Linked DNA regions of Homo sapiens: regions 2 and 3 are each linked to region 1. Evidence: fine-mapped expression QTL. A gene starts in region 1. Each other region holds a variant in brackets. All regions are shown on one strand. Distances are from middle to middle. Region 1 holds the start of TMEM176A (transmembrane protein 176A). Region 2 overlaps LOC105375567 (a long non-coding RNA gene). Region 3 holds the start of AOC1 (amine oxidase copper containing 1).

The links.
Region 2: its variant is fine-mapped to the expression of TMEM176A in left ventricle (GTEx, PIP above 0.99).
Region 3: its variant is fine-mapped to the expression of TMEM176A in atrial appendage (GTEx, PIP above 0.99).

Annotation. Positions count from the first base shown.
Region 1 is chr7:150,797,599-150,804,014 of GRCh38, forward strand. It overlaps TMEM176A (transmembrane protein 176A), which reads left to right and starts at 3,171. Exons shown (of 7, transcript NM_018487.3): 1 at 3,171-3,230; 2 at 3,938-4,126; 3 at 4,617-4,727; 4 at 5,802-5,858; 5 at 6,022-6,234. The coding sequence starts at 3,953. It overlaps TMEM176B (transmembrane protein 176B), which reads right to left and starts at 2,766. Exons shown (of 7, transcript NM_001101312.2): 1 at 2,700-2,766. RefSeq lists enhancers at 1,763-2,462, 2,463-3,162, 3,163-3,862.
Region 2 is chr7:150,830,677-150,836,384 of GRCh38, forward strand. The region is part of intron 2 of LOC105375567 (a long non-coding RNA gene); the gene reads right to left. LOC124901775 (a long non-coding RNA gene) reads left to right here. Exons shown (of 3, transcript XR_007060591.1): 3 at 2,295-2,425. Among named protein-coding and RNA genes, the nearest start is that of AOC1, 19 kb to the right of the region's middle. The variant C/A (reference allele first, on the strand shown) is at 3,017.
Region 3 is chr7:150,847,950-150,854,365 of GRCh38, forward strand. AOC1 (amine oxidase copper containing 1) reads left to right here and starts at 4,568. Exons shown (of 5, transcript NM_001091.4): 1 at 4,568-4,609. All of the region lies in intron 1 of LOC105375567 (a long non-coding RNA gene), which reads right to left. RefSeq lists an enhancer at 4,150-4,721. The variant G/A (reference allele first, on the strand shown) is at 3,561.

The DNA.
Region 1 (6,416 bases):
GAAGTATTTTTTTGTGTAAGGTTGTCATTTTACAGAGTCCTTTGTGATGACTTTTGTTCCCAGGTTATTTACGCATGAGAACCCTGCCTTGTGGGCCTTCCATTTTCAGATTTTTTTTTTAACTCAAGTGACTCGATTATGATTCTGACAACTTTCACAAAAGCTTCTTCACTCATTTGTGTAACTGCATATATTTTGAGAGTATGAATTCCTCATAATTTATTTAAGTGGTTCCCTATTGGCAGACATTTAGGTTATTTCTAATCCTTTTCCATTACAGACAATGTGGAATTGGCAGGGCACCAGGAATGCGCATTTGCAATTTTAGTAGATATTGTCAGTTATCCTCCACGGAGGTGGTAGCAATTCACATGCAGGAGGCAAACTCTTTTATCTTTTTCCTTTTATATGGGGAAAAATGCATTGATTTTAATCAATTTTATGTAATAAAAATGTCCCATTTTAAATGTATATCTCAACGAGTTTTGACAAATTTACACATTTGTGCAATTACAGCTACAATCAAGATAAAGGACATTCCTACACAGCAATACATTCCCTAAAGCCCCTCCCCAGAAAATACCCCCAACCACTGGCCATGAGCAACCACTGACCTGCTTTCTGTAATGATTTCCATATATTTTTAATCCATGGTTTTCTTTTATTTCATTTTTTTATTATGTATTTATTTATTTATTCATTTTTTGAGATGGAGTCTCGCTCTGTCGCCCAGGCTAGGGTGGCGCGATCTCGGCTCACTGCCAGCTCCACCTCCCGGGTTCACGCCATTCTCCTGCCTCAGCCTCCCGAGTAACTACAGGCGCCCGCCATCAAGCCCAGCTAATTTTTTGTATTTTTAGTAGAGACGGGGTTTCACCGTGTTAGCCAGGATGGTCTCGATCTCCTGACCTCATGATCCGCCCGCCTCGGCCTCCCAAAGTGCTGAGATTACAGGCGTGAGCCACCGCGCCCGGCCAGTTCTCTTTTTTTAGAGAGAGAGATGGGGTGTTGCTTTGTTGCCCAGGGTGGTCTCAAACTCCTGGACTCAAGCAATCCTCCCACCTCAGCCTCCCAAAGTGCTGCAATTACAGGTGTGAGCCACCACGCCTGGCCCATAGTTCTCTTATTATGAGTGAGGTTGGTTGTCTTTTCATATGTTCAGGGCCATTTTTATTTCTTCTTTTGTGAGCTCTCCGTTCACATCCTATGTCCTTGTTTCGTTTTGTTTTGTTTTGCTTTTTTCTATGGAAGTTCTTTATCTATTCACAAAATTACCGTTTGTGATATGAGTTTCAAATGTTTCTTTACAATTTGAAGTTTATTTTTTGACCTTGCTTGTATATTCATACAATCCATGTTCTATTTCATTCTATTTATGGTGTCTAGCTCTTACACTTTTAAAGGACTTCCCCGTTTCGAGATTATAAAATAATCTTCCACATTTTCTTCTAAGTGCCTTTATGCTTTCAGTTTTCACTTTTAAATGCCGACCATCTGGAATTTGGGAGCTGGGTGACCAACCTTCGCCGTTGGGAGACACGGATCCAAGTTCTGTTGCTGTCATTCAGATGTTTAACTTCTGAAAGATACGTTCCATTTGCGGAAAATACATCCTCTTTTTCTCAGTGATTTAAAATTCTCTCCTGAGCAGAAATGAAGTTCCCCTAGGAATGTAGGCCTATTCTAGTCCTTATATTCTGCCCATTGGCATGTCTCATGGGCTAGGCATCATTACCACAATTTTAACATGGAGCTTAATGCTAATTGGGCTGTTTCATGATCCCCTCGTGTGGTTTTTCTTTCAGAATTGTCATGGCCATTTTTGCTAGACTACTTCTTCACATGCACTTTAGAATCAGCTTGCCTGGCTCTAAAATAAATCCTGCATAGGCAATTCTAATGGACATCCTGGCTAAGTATCACAGTTTAAATCAAATATTATTAACAATTCTAATAACACCTCCCATTCGTACTCTACCTACTTTTCAAAGCAGTTTCACTCTTTCACCCACCTGGCCTCCTTGGGGTTAGAAAGGACAGGAGTTAGACAATTCCGCACACGTACAAAGGAGCTTCAGACTGCTTCCAGCCCAGCCCCAGATTCCAGCCAGACCTTCCCTTGACGGCCCAGGCCTCGCCCTGAGGGCACCTCGGGTTCCAGCTACCTCCGGGCCCCCAGGACCACCGCTTCCCCCGCCCCACGCCAACCCCTAGATCTGCCTCGCCCCCGCCTGAAGAGTCGGATCTGAACCAGGCCGGCACCACGGAGATTCCCCTGCGGGCCGCCCGACGCCTGGTAGGTGGTGGGCTCTTCCCGGCTGCCCCGAACACTTTCCTCTGTCCAGCTCTTCCCGTGCCCCGGGGCTGGGGAAAGCGTCCGGCAGCCCCGCCGCTCCCTGGCCCCGTCCCAGGAGCCACCCCACCGTAGGGCTCCAGCCAGGGTCCAGGCGTGCAGGCGGCAGAAGGTGGACGGGACGCGCCAGCCCCAGGCCTCTCCTCCCGCTCTCCAGCCGTTTTTCTGGGGAGAAACACCTGCACCCAGCTGTCCCTCCCTCCTACGTGAGTCCTCCTGGAAACCAGGTTGGAGGAAGAAAGACGTCCTGTGGACAGGACGGGGTGGGGGCATGGCCCTGGGGACTCCTCGTGACAGAGGGTCCTGCGGCAAGAGGGTCTCCCGGGCCGCGGAGGCCCTGCCTCACCTGCAGTCCTCCGGGAGCCCGCGGCCGAGCAGAGCGGACACTAGCTGACCCCGAGCAGGGGAGCGACGGGAGGGCGGAGACGGCAGATGCACGGGTGGGGGCTGCGGCCCCGCCCAGGCTGCGCGGTTTCCCGAAACCAGCTGCGGCCCGGGGGCCCGGCAAAGGGGGTTCCGCCCGGAGGAGCGGACCGGGCGGGAGAAGACCGAGCCCCCGCGCGCCCCCTGCGCTCCCACTCGCGCACACTTGCACGCCGGCCCTGGCCGGGCGGGGCTGGAGGCGAGAACGACCCCACGGGCTTTCCCAGGGCCGTCCGCCCGCGGACCCTCCCAGCTCCCCAGAGCCCAGTGACCCTCGCGCAGCAGGAGAACCCCAGACGGACCCCAGGCCCTGCAGCCTGTCATGAACCCGAGGGGCTGAAGTTCAGCCCCACCCCCGCCTCCCCTCCCCGCCTCCCCCTCCAACTCTCAACCCACTTCTCCAGCCAGCGCCCCAGCCCTCCCGCCGCCCGCTCGCAGGTCCCGAGGAGCGCAGGTGAGGCGGCACCCCACTCCCGGCGGCCCCCGGGCCTCCTTCCGCACGCACCCCGAGCTGCCTCCGCACAGTTGGAGGAGCGTAGGAGGGACCCCCACCCAGGGATGACACTCCAGGAAGGGGACTGCAGAGGAAGCCAGGTGCGGCCCCGGCTTTTGACCTACCTCCGCACCGCAGCGCGGTCCTTCACGGGGCAGGGGCGGCGTGAACCCGTCGGGCGTGAGCAGCAGTCGGTGGAGCGGGAGGTCGGCGGTGGCGGGGATGGGGGTATCCGGAGCGCAGCCGGGGCGCAGCTGCTGGCACAGGAGCTCCACAGGCAGCCAAGGACTCGGTCCTGTCCCAGAGCCTGCGGACTGTGGAGGGGAGGCCGCAGGAAGAGCCCGGGAGGAGGGGGTGAGGGGTCGAGGTGTGGGGCGCTGCTTGACCCAGACGCCAGGGCCCTGGGAGGAGGATGAGGGGGACAGAGCAGATCTTGGGCGAAAGGGGAGGTTCCCGCAGGCTCTGTAGTCGCCGCAGTTCCAGCATGGTCAGCACCCCCTCTGCTACACACATTCCCCTCGTGAGGGGCCAGGGGTGCGGCCCTGTGACCAGGACAGCCATTCATTGGGTGACTTTGAGCCACCACTGGCCCCTGACCTCCCCAACTCCAATGAAATCTGCGAAAATCTTCTGACAGCCGTTCCTCTCTGGTGCTCCCTTCCTCATAGACTGTGTCCCTGACAATGGGAACAGCCGACAGTGATGAGATGGCCCCGGAGGCCCCACAGCACACCCACATCGATGTGCACATCCACCAGGAGTCTGCCCTGGCCAAGCTCCTGCTCACCTGCTGCTCTGCGCTGCGGCCCCGGGCCACCCAGGCCAGGGGCAGCAGCCGGCTGCTGGTGGCCTCGTGGGTGAGTGTGACGGCCTGCCTCGTCGGGCGGCGGGAGGAACTCCCCACCTCCAGCCGCAGCAGCACTCTCTGCCAGCCTCCCTCTGAACAGGACACCGAGCCAGTTATGTCTTCTTACTTAGCGATGTGATTCTCTGGCCTTCTCAGTAAGAGCCTGGGGAGGGGAGGCTCTGGGCTGAAGGGGTGTGGAGGAGCCACTGACCATGCAGAGTCCCAATCAGTGGAGCCCTGAGTCCATCCTTTCCTCTGGGCCAAACTCAGGATGGGCCGGCTCTCCTCTCCTTCCTTTCCCTTCTCTTTTCTCCTCCTCCTGCCTCTTCTTCTTTCTCCTTCTCCTCCTCTTTCTTCTCCTTTTCTCTTCTCTTCTCTTCTCTTCTCTTCTTTCTTTCTCTCTCTCTCTACCTCTCCCTCTCTTTTTGGGGTTTTAGCGGTTAATCCCTGCAGTGGCAGGTCCACCTAGGAGCCGGGATCTTGGGTCCTTTGTCTTTCAGGTGATGCAGATCGTGCTGGGGATCTTGAGTGCAGTCCTAGGAGGATTTTTCTACATCCGCGACTACACCCTCCTCGTCACCTCGGGAGCTGCCATCTGGACAGGGGCTGTGGTGAGTAGAGCAGGACAGTGCTTGACTGCCTGTGAGAGGGGTGGGGCATTGCTCTCCTGATTGCCTTCCTCCAACATGGCGCCACAGAATGCTGGCAGTCGGAGAGATCTGATTATCTAGGACCATTCCCTGCCTGTTCAGATGAGCAAACAGCTGAGGGCGGTGGTGGCATGTCCTATTCACACTGTCTGCTCTCCCATACCCTTCCCAGTGCTGTTCCCACCAGGCTGGCTGCCTCTCCCTGCCTTCAACAGTTAATGTCAACTAAGGATCTAAGGACCTGCTCATCTCCAGATACTTGCATTGAGATGGGGAAGGCAGAGCGTTCCAGATAGTATGTGGTCCCCCAGGAAGCATCACCCCCTGGTTATTCTCATTGTCCTCCACAGGCCCTGTACACAATGGAAACCCAGGAATTGTTGTCAACAGATGGGTGTGTGCAGTTTGCACAGGAGCTGGGTAGGCTGGTCATGGTACCTACACTCTCAGAATAGCACTAAAACACTCATATTTACTGACAGAAGCCGAGAGTAATTACCTTCACCCAGCCTGTGGCAAAATACCCAGCTTAATTACAGAATTAGCCAAACAGGATTCAGGTCCACCTGTCCACTGGGACATACTAGATTTCCTGTTCTTCAAGCCCAGCTGAGTGGATTATTGGGCACTGTTAGGACAGGCTTCTAGACCTAACAGTGCCCACTCTGTATAGACTCACCCTTCATTGAGATCTTCTCCAGCACCCCATGACTTTTATCCACAGGATCCCACCATCCCTAGAACTTTCATAAAGCACTTGGTGTTGTTTAAAAAGGAAGGTTTAGAAGGGAAGAGGGGCTCACACCTGGCTTGACCACAAGCTCTTAGGTGTCACTAAAGCAGGGCCTTTTGCAGCCTCAGGAGTTGGATCCAGGCTCCACCCTCTCAGCAATTATCTTACCATGGATAATAAAGCTTAGCATGAAACCTCCCGCCCAAGCTGTGTGCTGGGGAAGGGCCTGCATGGAGGCTCTCTCGTGGGAGAGGAGTTGCATTTCCTGTACTAAGCCTGCTCCTGGCTCAATCTCTCCCCAGGCTGTGCTGGCTGGAGCTGCTGCCTTCATTTACGAGAAACGGGGTGGTACATACTGGGTAAGTTCAGGGAAGGGCATGGGAGGGGACCAGGTTCAGGCTGGAGGTCACCCCAATCTCCTGCCCTGTTGCAGGCTTCTCTGGGCCTTGCCCTTTTTTCCCCCGACTGGACTCTGAGAGAGACTGAAACACAAAGATTTCTCTCTGCCTCCTCCCTCCCCAGGCCCTGCTGAGGACTCTGCTAACGCTGGCAGCTTTCTCCACAGCCATCGCTGCCCTCAAACTTTGGAATGAAGATTTCCGATATGGCTACTCTTATTACAACAGTGCCTGCCGCATCTCCAGCTCGAGTGACTGGAACACTCCAGCCCCCACTCAGAGTCCAGAAGAAGTCAGAAGGCTACACCTATGTACCTCCTTCATGGACATGCTGAAGGTAGGTGGCCAAGGGGAAGGGGCAGCAGCAGGTGGGGCAGGGATGGCCAGGCCAGGCCAGGGGCAAGAGTCAGGTTCTCCACCAGAAATAGGTGTTACCTATTCTGCACCAAGCTTGCGTATTGTCACCAAAGACAAAGCATCAGACAAAATAGAAATGGCTCCTGTAGGGTGTTACAGACA
Region 2 (5,708 bases), 33 kb after region 1:
TCTAATTTTATTCCATTGTGCTCTAAGAAGATAATTGATATGATTTTGGGAAATTTGTTGAGGCTTATTTTGAAGCCTAACATGTGGTCTATCCTGGAGAATGTACCACGTGCTGATGAGAAGAATGTATATTCTGTAGTTGTTGGATAGAATGTTCTGCAAATTGTTAGGTCCCTTTGTCTATAGTGCAGTTTAAATCTAATGTCTCTTTGTTGACTTTCTGCCTAGATGATATATGTCCAATGCTGAGAGTGGGGGTCAATCTTTGTGCTTCCCAACCTGCTGCTGAGGTTGCTCCTTTGGCCTGTAATAACCTCACCACTAGCATCTGTTCCCCTCACAAAGAATCAGTCACCCTTGTCAGCCTCATTATACCCAGTACAAAGGCCACCTGCTCTGGGAAACATTTCCCAAACCACTGCCCCACCCTGGGTGACTGGACCACTCCCTCCTCCATGCCCTGTACATACCTCGCTCTCTGCACCTGGCCCTTTTATGACCCTTACTTGTTTACTTGACCCTTACTTGAGGACATCTGACTCTACTCACTCTAGTTCATGCCCCCCAGGGCACAGCCAGGGCATTTCATATCTGTGTCTGCACAGCAAGGGCAGTATAGTGTGGTAGGGCTGTGCAGCTCTGAAAGCACTGCCAGGGTGGGTTGAGATCTTGGTTCTCATTTCTTTTTTTTTTTTTTTTCTTTTTGAGATGGATTCTCACTCTGTTGCCCAGGATGGAGTGCAGTGGCACAGTCTCGGCTCACTGCAGGCTCCACCCCCGGGTTCACGCCATTCTCCTGCCTCAGCCTCCCGAGTAGCTGGGACTACAGGCGCCCGCCACCATGCTCGGCTAGTTTTTTTGTGTTTTTAGTAGAGACAGGGTTTCACCATATTAGCCAGGATGGTCTTGATCTCCTGACCTCCTGATCTGCCTGCCTCGGCCTCCCAAAGTGCTGGGATTACAGGCGTGAGCCACCGCGCCCAGCCGGTTCTCACTTCTTCATATGTAATCTGATGACCCTCACAGGGTCATTGTGAGGAGTGAATAAAATATACACGTGAAGCACTTAGCACAGTGCCGGGCACAGAATCTGCATCTGATTCAACTGGGGCATAAATGGATGAAGGAACTTGTTAAATAATGACACAATGGCCGCCTTGGATTCTTTGCATTCTCGTTGGAGTGAGAAATCTCCTTTTTCTGAAAACTGACCTGAATGTGGAGGACAGACAAGTAGTGACTCTTGGCTCTGCAATCCATGAGAAGAGCTGCTGGCTTATATCCATAACTTATTTTGAGTTTTATTCAAGGACACAGAAGTCCACTTCTTCTTGGAGGAAGGACAGAATTTAGTCCAATGTCTGAGAAGCTTTAATAGGCTGCCAGGGAAAAGAATTATGAGCTGCCTCTTTCTCTGGGACATATGTGCCATTGTTTTCCTCTCAGCACAAAGACTTTGCTGTGCCCTGGGGTAGGGGCTTTGCTTCACTGTGAAACTGGCTCCAACATAGACCTTGAGATTGCTAAATGTTCTCATTCTGAGCTAATCTGGAGCCTAAAGAGGTTAACAATCCAGCAACAACGAAGAAGAATATTTTGATGGAATTTCTCCTTGTCTTTGCCATATATTATATGCCTTTTTTCAGAGTACACTATTCATCAAGAACTTGAGCTTCTCGAACACTATATTTTGGTTATAGACTTTTTTATTGCTTTTTTATGATTATAAAAATAAATACATGCCCATTGGAGAAAGCTGGGAAAAATGGAAAAGTATAACAAAAAGACAAAAATTACCCATAATTTCACACCCCAGAGATAACCACTGTTAATATTTTTGTGTGATCTTTTCACTAGTGATAGATAGATAAACAAATAAGTAGACTGACATACAAATGCATTAGGCACATTTTTCCCACAAGTGGAAAAACACCAATAATTAGATTTCTTGGTCCAACAAGCCTAGTTGTTTGTTTGTTTGTTTTGTTTTGTTTTTGAAATGGAGTCTCGCTCTGTCACCCAGGCCGGAGTGCAGTGGCTCAATCTTGGCTCACTGCCACATCATCCTCCCGGGTTCAAGTAATTCTCCTGCCTCAGCCTCCTGAGTAGCTGGATTACAGGCACGCACCACCACGCCCGGCTAATTTTTGTATTTTTAGTAGAGACAGGGTTTCATCATGTTAGCAGTCTGGTCTGGAACTCCTGACCTCGTGATCCGCCTGCCTCAGTCTCCCAAAGTGCTAGGATTACAGGCATGAGCCACCACGCCCAGCCACAGGACTAGTTTTTTACAGGCTTCAATGTGACCAAGGTGGACTGAAGGAAAAGCTATATTGAAGAAAACTCCTGAACCTGCCAACTGGGAAGGTCCCAAGAGTCCAGACTGGGTGGTCATGTAGACCCTCATCCTTCACCTGCTCATCCTGCCTAGTTAAGTGTTTGCTTAGCTCAACTCTCAGAGGCAGCAAAGGCAGCAAATGAGATGGTGAATTACAACCCAAAGCCCAGGCACTGGACTGGGCAGTGTGGTAGGGAGGTGCAGAGATTCAAGTGAAGACCTACCTGCTCCCCCTTCCCCTTCCTCCTAGATCCCTGTCAGGTCCTTTCACCTGAGCCTTGATTCCATGTGACTATGATAGTTGGTTGTTTGGTTGGTGCCCATATTTGTTTGCTAGAGCTGCCATAGCAAAGTACCACAACTGGGAGGCTGAAACGCACACATTTATTTATCACAGTTCTGGACGCTGGAAGCCTGAGCCCAAGGCATCTGCAAGGTTGGTTCCCTCTGAGACCTCTCCTAGGCTCACGGATGTCTGTGTTCTGCCTGTGTTCTCCTCATCACATGGTCATCCCTCTGTGTGTGTTTGTGTTCCAATTACCTCTTCTCATAAAGACACCAGACATATTGGATTAAGACTCATCTAATGACCTCATCTTAACTTAATTACTTCTTTATAGACCCTATTTCCAAATATAGTCACATTCTGAGGTACTAGGGGTACGACTTCAACATATG[C/A]ATTTTGGGGGACACAGTTCAGCCCATGACAGCGCCTCACTAGGTGCTGGTGATACTTGATCCTGACCAGGCTGCTCCATCAACAAGAGTAATGAGTGGAAATTTCAGCTCCTTAGAACCAAGTATTTTTAAAATGAAAAAAAAATTGAACTTAATGAGAATTTGCTGTTTAACTTTTAAAAGTAAGGCATATCACAACACCAATGACATTCTTCGCAGAAATAACAAAAGTATTCCTGGAATTTGTATGGAAACACACACAAAAAAGAAACCCAAAAAGCTGAAATAAGCAAAAAGAACAAAGCTAGAGGCATCAAACTTCCTGACCTCAAAGTATAATACAAAGCAATAGTAACTAAAACAGCGTGGTACTGGCATAAAAACAGATGCATAAACCAATGGAACAGGATAGAGAGCCCAGAAATAAATCTACACCTTCATAGCCACCTGATTTTCAACAGCAGTGCGAAGATAGCACAGTGGAAAAAGGACAATTGCTTCAATAGAATGGTGTTAGAAAAACTGGATATCCACAAACAGAAAAATGAAATTACCCCCTTATATCTCACCATGTTCAACTCAAAATAGATTAAAGACTTAAATCCAAGACCCAAAACTATTAAACTACTAGAAGAAGACATAGGGGGAAAACTCCACGACACTGGTCTGGGCAATAATTTTTTTATAAAACGTTAAAAGCATGGATAACAAAAGCAAAAAGAGCCAAATGAAATTACATCAAATTTCTAAAAATTTACTAAAAAGCTTCTGCACAACAAAGGAAACAACCAACAGAGCAAAAAAGACAACCTAAATAGTGGGAGAAAATATTTGCAAACTATACATCTGACAAGCAGTTAATATCCAAAATATATAAGGAAACCAAACAACTCAATAGCAAAATAATAATAATAATAATAATAATAATAATAATAACCCAGTGAAAAATTGGCAAAAGACTTGAGTAGACATTTTGCAAAAGAAGACAGACAAATGGCCAACAGGTGTATGAAGAAAAGCTCAACATCACTAATCATCAGGAAAATGCAAATAAAAAACCACAAGGAGATATCACCTCATTATTATGGCTATTATCAAAAAGACAAAAGATAACACTTGCCATCAAAGCTGTGGAGAAAAGGGAACATTTATATATTGTTGCTGGGAATGCAAATTAGTACAGCCATTATGGAAAACAGTATAGAGGTTCCTCAAAAAATTAAAAACAGAACTACAATATGATCCAGCAACCCCACTACTGGGTATATATTCAAAGGAATTGAAATCAGTATGTTGAAGAGATATCTGCACTCCCATGTTTATTACAGCACTATGCACAATAACCAAAATATGGTATCAACCTAAATGTCCATCAAAGGACAAATGGATTTAAAAAAATGAGTTGTATATATACACATGGAATACCACTTATCCATAAAAAAGAATGAAATCTGCCATTTGTGATAACAGGATGAACTTGGAGGACATTCTGTAAGTGAAATAAGCCAGGCACAGAAAGATAAATACCGCATGATCTCACTCATCAAGATTCATGTGGAATCTAAAAAAACCTGAACTCAAAGAAGTAGAAGCTAGGCTGGTTAGAAAGGAGTGGGGAGATGGGGAGATGTTGGTCAAAGGATACATAATTACAGCTAGTTAGGAGGAATAAATTTCAAGAGATCTGTTGTATAGCAAGGTGATTATAGTTAATGACAATATATTCTCTTCTTGAAAAATGTAGAAAATGGACATTAAGTGCTCTTACCACAAGAGCGATAACTTATATGAAGTAATGCATTTGTTAATTAGCTAAATTTAACCACTCTACAATGTATATGTATATCAAAACATCATGTTTCACCCAAGAAAAACATACAAGTTATGTCAAGTAAAAAAAAAAAAAAGATGAAAAAAAAAAAAGCAAAGCAGATTTCTCTGAGCACCATCAGTGCCTGCATTGAGTTCTTTTTTATCAATGGAGCTGCTCCATGAATGGCTCTGAGTCTTGCCTGCACCTCGGAATCAACTGGGGAGCTTTTAACCCCACCCCCTACAAACCCAGGCCCCCCTATCTAAATCAGAATCCGGAGGTGGGACCTCTGGGCACCAATAGTTAGGAACACTGCCTGGGTGATTCCAACATGCAGCCAGCGGGGAGAACACCCCACAATGGCTCTGGTCCAGGGCATGGGTCTTTGGGGGCTTTGCAGGGGCTCCACGGGGCCTCCACTGAGGTTCCTTAGGATCTGCATGACTCCCTTCAGTCAGCACCTCCCAGGCAGTGAAATCCGGAGAAGGGCTTCCAGGCTGTGGCTGCCTCCCTTAGAAAACAAAACCTTTATAGAACAGGGACACAGTGAAGGACTCAGGACAAAGCAGGCAGTTGGATGCTTGTGAGACCCAGGAATGTTGTGGAGTTCACGCCTCTGGGCATCCTGTGCCCACATCAGTCACAGACAGGAAAAACCAGGAGAAGCAGCATCATGGCCCATTCCCAGAGCAACAGAAAAGCCCAGGGATCAGTGAAACTCAGGGAGACATTGGTGGCACAGGAACCTAAGTGGGATGAGCTGACCTAATAACCCAGAGGCACAGCCTAGCCAAGACCCTGCTTCTGTGGAAAGTTTTGGAGCCCCGTGGCAGAGGCCTTTCTACCCTGAGTGCTCACAAATCTCCTAAGCCAACACCA
Region 3 (6,416 bases), 50 kb after region 1:
GTGGGCAACACAGCATGACCCCGTCTCTACAAATATATATATGTATATAACAACAGACTTACCAGCTTTTCTGCACAAGGATTCTGTTCGCCTCAGCTTTCCCAGTGCCTCTCTAGAGGGCTTCTCTATCTCCTCTGTCTCTATAGGATTCCCACAAGCCCCTCTTCACCCCCACACTTCTCTAGAAGCGCATAGGGAGGTTCCTCACTCTACCTCCTCCTTCCAGACACACCACCTGCCCTTCCTCAGCACAGCGACACAAACCGCACCCCACTCCCCGCATCAGCCCTGACCTTTTCCCATGTTGGGAAACACACCACATCTCAGTTCAGGACTCTGCTCCTACCCCCACTCACACTCCCACTCCCACCCCCGCCCCTGCCCAGTGTGTCCTCTTCCTCCTAAGTCCCTCGTGTATCGCAAAACCCCACACAGGCTCTACCTTGTGGATCCTCGGGGCAGCAGCCCCCCAGGGCACAGGGCTTGGAATTCACTCACTGGCCAAGGACCATGCTCTCTGCAATGAGGCAGGTAAAGAAGGTGTGCTGGGTTGCATAGCATCCCCCTAAAAATTCATGTCCTCCCTGGAACCTCAGAATATGGTCTTATTTGGAAATAGGGTCGTTGCAGATGAATTAGTTAGGATGATGTCATACTGGAGTAGGGTAGGCCCTCAATACAATCACTGGTGTTCTTGAAAATAGAGGTACTGAGACAAGGAGGACGCCATGTGAGGACAGAGATTGGAGTGACATGGCCACAAGCCAAGGCACTGAGGGACACCAAGGATTGCTGGCAACACAGAAGCTGGAAGAGGAGAGGAAGGACCCTCTTCTTGAGCCTCCAAAGGGAGCATGGCCCTGCCTACACCTTGATTTCACACTTTAGGCCTCCAGAACTGTGAGACAACCCATTTCTGTTACTTTAAGCCCCTGTGTGTGGTCCTCTGTGACAGCAGCCATGGAGGCTACTGCAGAGGGGATAGAGTCCCAGGACTTGGGGGCTTGCAGTCTTGAGGGGAATCTCCTTCCAAGCCCTTGCAGGACAGGCCCTTGGGCATCAATGTGTTGCACTTACTCTGTGCCACCTTGTAATATTAATCCTTCTATGTACATGTTATGGGCCCCGTTACATAAAAAATGCAATTCTTTCTGGTGTGCTTCAGCTCCCTGCCTACACGCAGTGTTCCTCCCTGCCCTCACTGCATCCTCCAGGTGCGGGACCTGTGGTGGTTCCTGTCCTCAGCCACATCTACCCTGGTGTGAGGACCTGTAGTCACTCAGTCTGTCTCCCAGGCCTTTCTTTTATTTATTTATGGACGTCCATTGCAGAACTGAATTAATTCTACCTCAGTGCATGGATGTCGTCATCACTGGCCCATACAAGTCCTCTCTCTTGTCTTTCTCACGTGTGTATGTATGTATTCCCACTCCCACCCCCGCCCTCACATCCATTCTAATGTGTATCCACTCTTGAAAGCGGGTGGCTTGGTGTGTACGTGTTTCCTGTTGTGTAATGGCATCGTGCTATCACTCATCCTGCGTCTTCCATGATCCTGAGATCCCTTCTCAGGAGTGGCTGTGTGGACATCCATGCCTTTGCACCCGCCAACTGCACAACACCCCATGGTGTGCAGTGACCACTCTCCTGGGGGTGGCACCCCGATGGCCTCCAGCTCCCCAGCCTCACAGCCACTTGTGTCTGCATCCCACCTCTAGGCCTGGGTGAGAACCTCTTTGACATATATTCCAAGAGACAGAGTTCCTGAGTCTGGAGAGCATGCAATTCTCTCATTTGCCCACACCCTGCAAAGTGCCCTCCAGAATGGCTGTGCCATCAATAACCCCTTCCCACAACCACACATAAGGTCCCCGTTTCCCCACATCTCTGTCAACACTTGGCATCATCCAGCTTTCCCATGAAAAATTATATCTCGTTGTTGAATGCTTTGCATTTTTCTAGTAACCACTACATTTGAGCATCTTTCCATGTGCTCTTTAGCCCTTTGGGGTGCCTCTTCTGCAAGTTACCCTTGGGATTCTTTACCAGGTTTCCATGGGGACTGCTGCCTCTTTCTGACCGATTTGCAAGAGCTCCTTGTGTATTCTAGATATTAGTCCTGTCACTTTTTGAAAACAGCTTTATTGAGACACACCTTACAATTCACCCATTTAAAGTGTATAATTCAATGCATTTTAGTACATTCACAGGTACATGCAGCCATCACCTTCAATTTTAGAACTTTTTAATCACCTCAAAAAGAAACCCCATAAGCATTAGCTCTCACCCCATCCCTCCATCGCACCCCAGCCCTAAGCAACCACTAATGTGCTTCTCATCTGCTTGAGAGATTTACCTACCCCACACGTTTCATATAAATGGAATAATGTGGTCTTTTGTGACTGGCTTCTTTCATTTGCCGTAGTGGTTTTAAGGTTCATCCACATTGTGTCATGTAACAGTGATTCCTTCCTTTTTATGACTGAATGATGTTCCATTGAGTGGATAGACCACATTTTGTTGACTCATTTATCAATGCAGAGACATATGAGTCGTCTCCACTGTTTGGCTATTGTGAATAACACTGCAGTAAACACTCTGGTACAGGTTTCCCCATGGACATAGGCTTTCCTTTCTCTTGAGCATATACCCAGGAGTGGGATTGCTGGGTTATATGATAACAACGTTAAGTCATTTGAGGAACAGCCAGACAGTTTTCCGAAGTGGCTGCGTCATCTCACCATGAACTGCCTGTGAGGCTTCCAGTTTCTCTGCCTCCTGGCCCCACCTGTTATTACCTTGCTTTTGAATTCTAGCCATCCTAGTGGATATAAAGTGGTATCTCCTGGTGGTTTTGATTTGCATCCCCTGATGACTAATGACATTGAACAGCTTTCCATGTGCATATTGGCCATTTGTGTATCTTCGTGAGGGGAATATCTATTCAGATCTTTGGCTCATTTTTAATTGGATTATTTGCCTCTTATTATGGAATTGGAAGAGTTCTTCTTACATTCTAGATATAATTTTCTTATCAGATATATAATCTGTGAATATTTTCTCCCATTCTATGCTTTGTCTTTTCATTTTCCTGTGGGTGTCCTTTGAAGCATAAAAGTCTTTTAATACTGATGATGTCAATTTATCTATTTTTTTTTCTTTGGTTATTTGTGCTTTGAGGTCACATCCAAGAATTAGATGTAAAGTCAAGCAGATTTACTCCTATGTTTTCTTTTTAAGAGTTTTACAGTTTTAGCTCTTACATGTATGTCTTTGGTCCCTTTCGAGTCCGTTTCCGTGTGTGAAAGGGTCTAACTCCATCATGTGCATGTGGCCCCTTTCCCTTTAAATCTTTGCAAGTCTCTTTTCTCGATCCATCCTCACTCCATTAACTTTGTCGCAGTTTCCTTTGTGGAATGGAAACAGATTGTAGTCCTCAAAATCAGGTTGTTCCTGAAACTCTCTTCTAATCCAAATCCCCCCAATTCTCTGCGGAGTTGGTGAGCCCATAACTGAGAATACATAACTCACAGTCCTCTTGAACACTGAGGGTGAAAGAC[G/A]TTAGCATTCATTGTCTTTGTATCAATCATCATTTTAACATGGAAGGCAAATCCCCTTCCTCAGAAACACCAAAGACCTTCTGGAATTGCAAGCAAGCTTCAAGTTGACTAAGTGTGTTCACCTTCCTTCATCTAGCTGCCAGTGCACACTGAAATGGCTTGCATTGCGGGCAGCAGGAAGGATGATGATGAGAAATACAAAACCCCTATAACCACAAAGCGGTGTGCAATCCCTGAGCAACCAAACCTTGGTAATGGGGGATGATGACCCCTTGGCACTCCTGAGCCACGAACTTTTCCTGACTCTATTCTTTCCTTTCCAACTAGGAGTTACCCCGGTCACCACGTTCGCCCTTCTCAACCTGACTAAGTGGGCGTTAGCACTGTCCGCCCACTGCATGGGCACTACCTGCCCCAGTGTCCTCTCCCCTCTCCGCTCTGTGCCATAGCCTTAGCTACCCTGGCCAGCTTTCTCCCAGCCAAGTCCTTCCTCCTTTCTGAATCTGGTCAGGGTCTCAAAGATCGTTAAAAAGCCGCCAAAGTTTGCAACTCGTCTTGAGTGGCTGCTCCTCCCAAACGGTTCTGCCTCTGGTGTCTTGTTCTAGGAGCGGTTGAATTCTCTGTTTTGCTGTGGGTGCCAGCCTCTATCAGCCCCTGCCCTGGTCCATCTGTCAGCTTCAGGTAAGACTACCGGCTAGGAAATGGCCCCTTGTCCTTATCTCTGCCTCTAAAATATGCCACCTAAATTAACAGATCGTGGCATTGCATGGCTCGTCACAGAGAAGCCAAGGCAAATTCTTGTGGAAGGCGGCACTTGTCTGGAAACAGACTCAGGACAAGTGTGCTGCACAGCCAGCTTCCTCAAACCCACTCTCGCCACTGTAGCTGCCCACAGAGGCACCTCCCAAGCCATAGGCCCCTCCTAGGCCAGCTCAGGCCTCACCTTGTCCCTCCCTGCAGGGCGGGGTCTGATTGACTTCAAGAAGGAGTCAGAGATCAGCTTAAGGGCAAAGGCTGGAAGCAGAGCGAACTGGGAGCAGAGCACACAGGTGCGTTCTGATGGGTATTCGGGAGAGTCAAGAAGGGGCTGACCTGGAGGACAGAAAAGCAGTGGAAGGAGGGCACAGAGTGAGGGGCAGAAGAAACAGGACACAGAGGGAGGAGGGCCAGGAAGTGAGGGCGGGAGCCCAGCACATCACAGAAGGTGCCCGGGTGCTTGGTGGCAGGCAACAGCCGGCCAGGGTGGAGTGGGGAAAGCTCAGAGAGGAGGGTGAGCAGGGAGAGGGCTTGCTTCCTGTTCCTGCCTGGAGGTCTCACCAGCCACCACCCCCACTGCCACTGCACATGGGGACAGAGGTTTGTCCTGGGGAAAGCAAAGGTCTCTTCCACATCTTTCTCCTTCCTGGAAAAGCAAAAAGAAACGTGGGTATAAGAGGTTGTAAAAAAGGAGACCCAGCCGTGAAAGGACATGGAGGTACCCTAAATGCACACTGCCAAGCAAAAGAAGCCAATCTGAAAAGGCTGCAGACTGTAAGATTCCAAATACAGGACGTTCTGGAAAAGGCAAAACTATGGAGACAATAAAAAGAGCAGTGATTGCTAGGGTTTCGGAGGAAGAGGTGGAGCACAGAAGATTTTGGGGGAGGTGGAACTATTCTGTGTGATATTCTAATGGTGGATCCATGTCATTGTCCGTTTGTCCAACCCATAGAATATGCAGCAGCAAGAGTGAGTCCTGATGTAAACTGTGGGCTCTGGGTGAGAGTGATGTGCAGGTTCATCAGCCACAAATGTATGGCTCTGGTGTGGATATTGATAGTGGGGAGGCTGCGTGTGTAGGGGCTGTGAGTATACAGAAACTCTCAGTACCTTTCGCTCAATTTTGCTATGAACCTAAAATTCCTCTTTAAAAGACTCCTATTTAAAAGACTTTAATAGACTTTATAAAGTTTGTTAAAAGACTTTTAATAGACTTTTTAAAGACTTTTAACAGACTTTATAAAGTCTATTAAGAAATCTATTAAAGTCTATTTTTAAAAGTCTATTAAAAAAAAAGTCTACTATAATCCCAGCACTTTGGGAGGCCAACGCAGGAGGATCACTTGAGCCCAGGAGTTCAAGACCAGCCTGGGCAACATAGTGAGATCCTGACTATATATATATATATATATATATATATATATATATATTTATTTATTTATTTATTTAAGTCTAATAAGAAGTCTATTTGGGGCCAGGCCTGGTGGCTCATGCCTGTAATCCCAGCACTTTGGGAGGCTGAGGCAGGTGGACCACTTGAGGTCAGGAATTCAAGACCAGCCTGACCAACACGGTGAAACACCATCTCTACTAAAAACAAAAAATTAGCCGGGCATGGTGGTGCACACCTGTAATCCCAACTATTCCAGAGGCTGAGGCAGGAGAATTGCTTGAACCTGGGAGGCAGAGGTAGCAGTGAGCCAAGATCGCATCACTGCACTCCAGCCTGGGCTACAGAGCAAGACTGTCTCAGGAAAAAGAAAAAATAGTCTATTTAAAGAAGAAAAAAAAGAGGCCTGGCCAATATTTAATAGGAGAACACAAGAACTCACCTCATATCCTTCCTGCTGGCTCTGGGTTCCGCCTGCAGCCCCTGCCTCACCTGCTCCCTCCAGGTAAGCAGGGCCTCCGAGAGCCCAAGATCATGTGGGTTCCAGGGTCTTCTGCCAGCACCAGAGGGCAAGACAAGGCAACTAGAGGGACATCCCCATGAGAGGCCATGACCATGGAGCAAAACGAGGGCAAGGGGAGAGCCCTCGGGGAGAGGGGCATGGGAAAGGGAGAGAAGGACATCTCAGATCAGCCTTTACCGTGGCC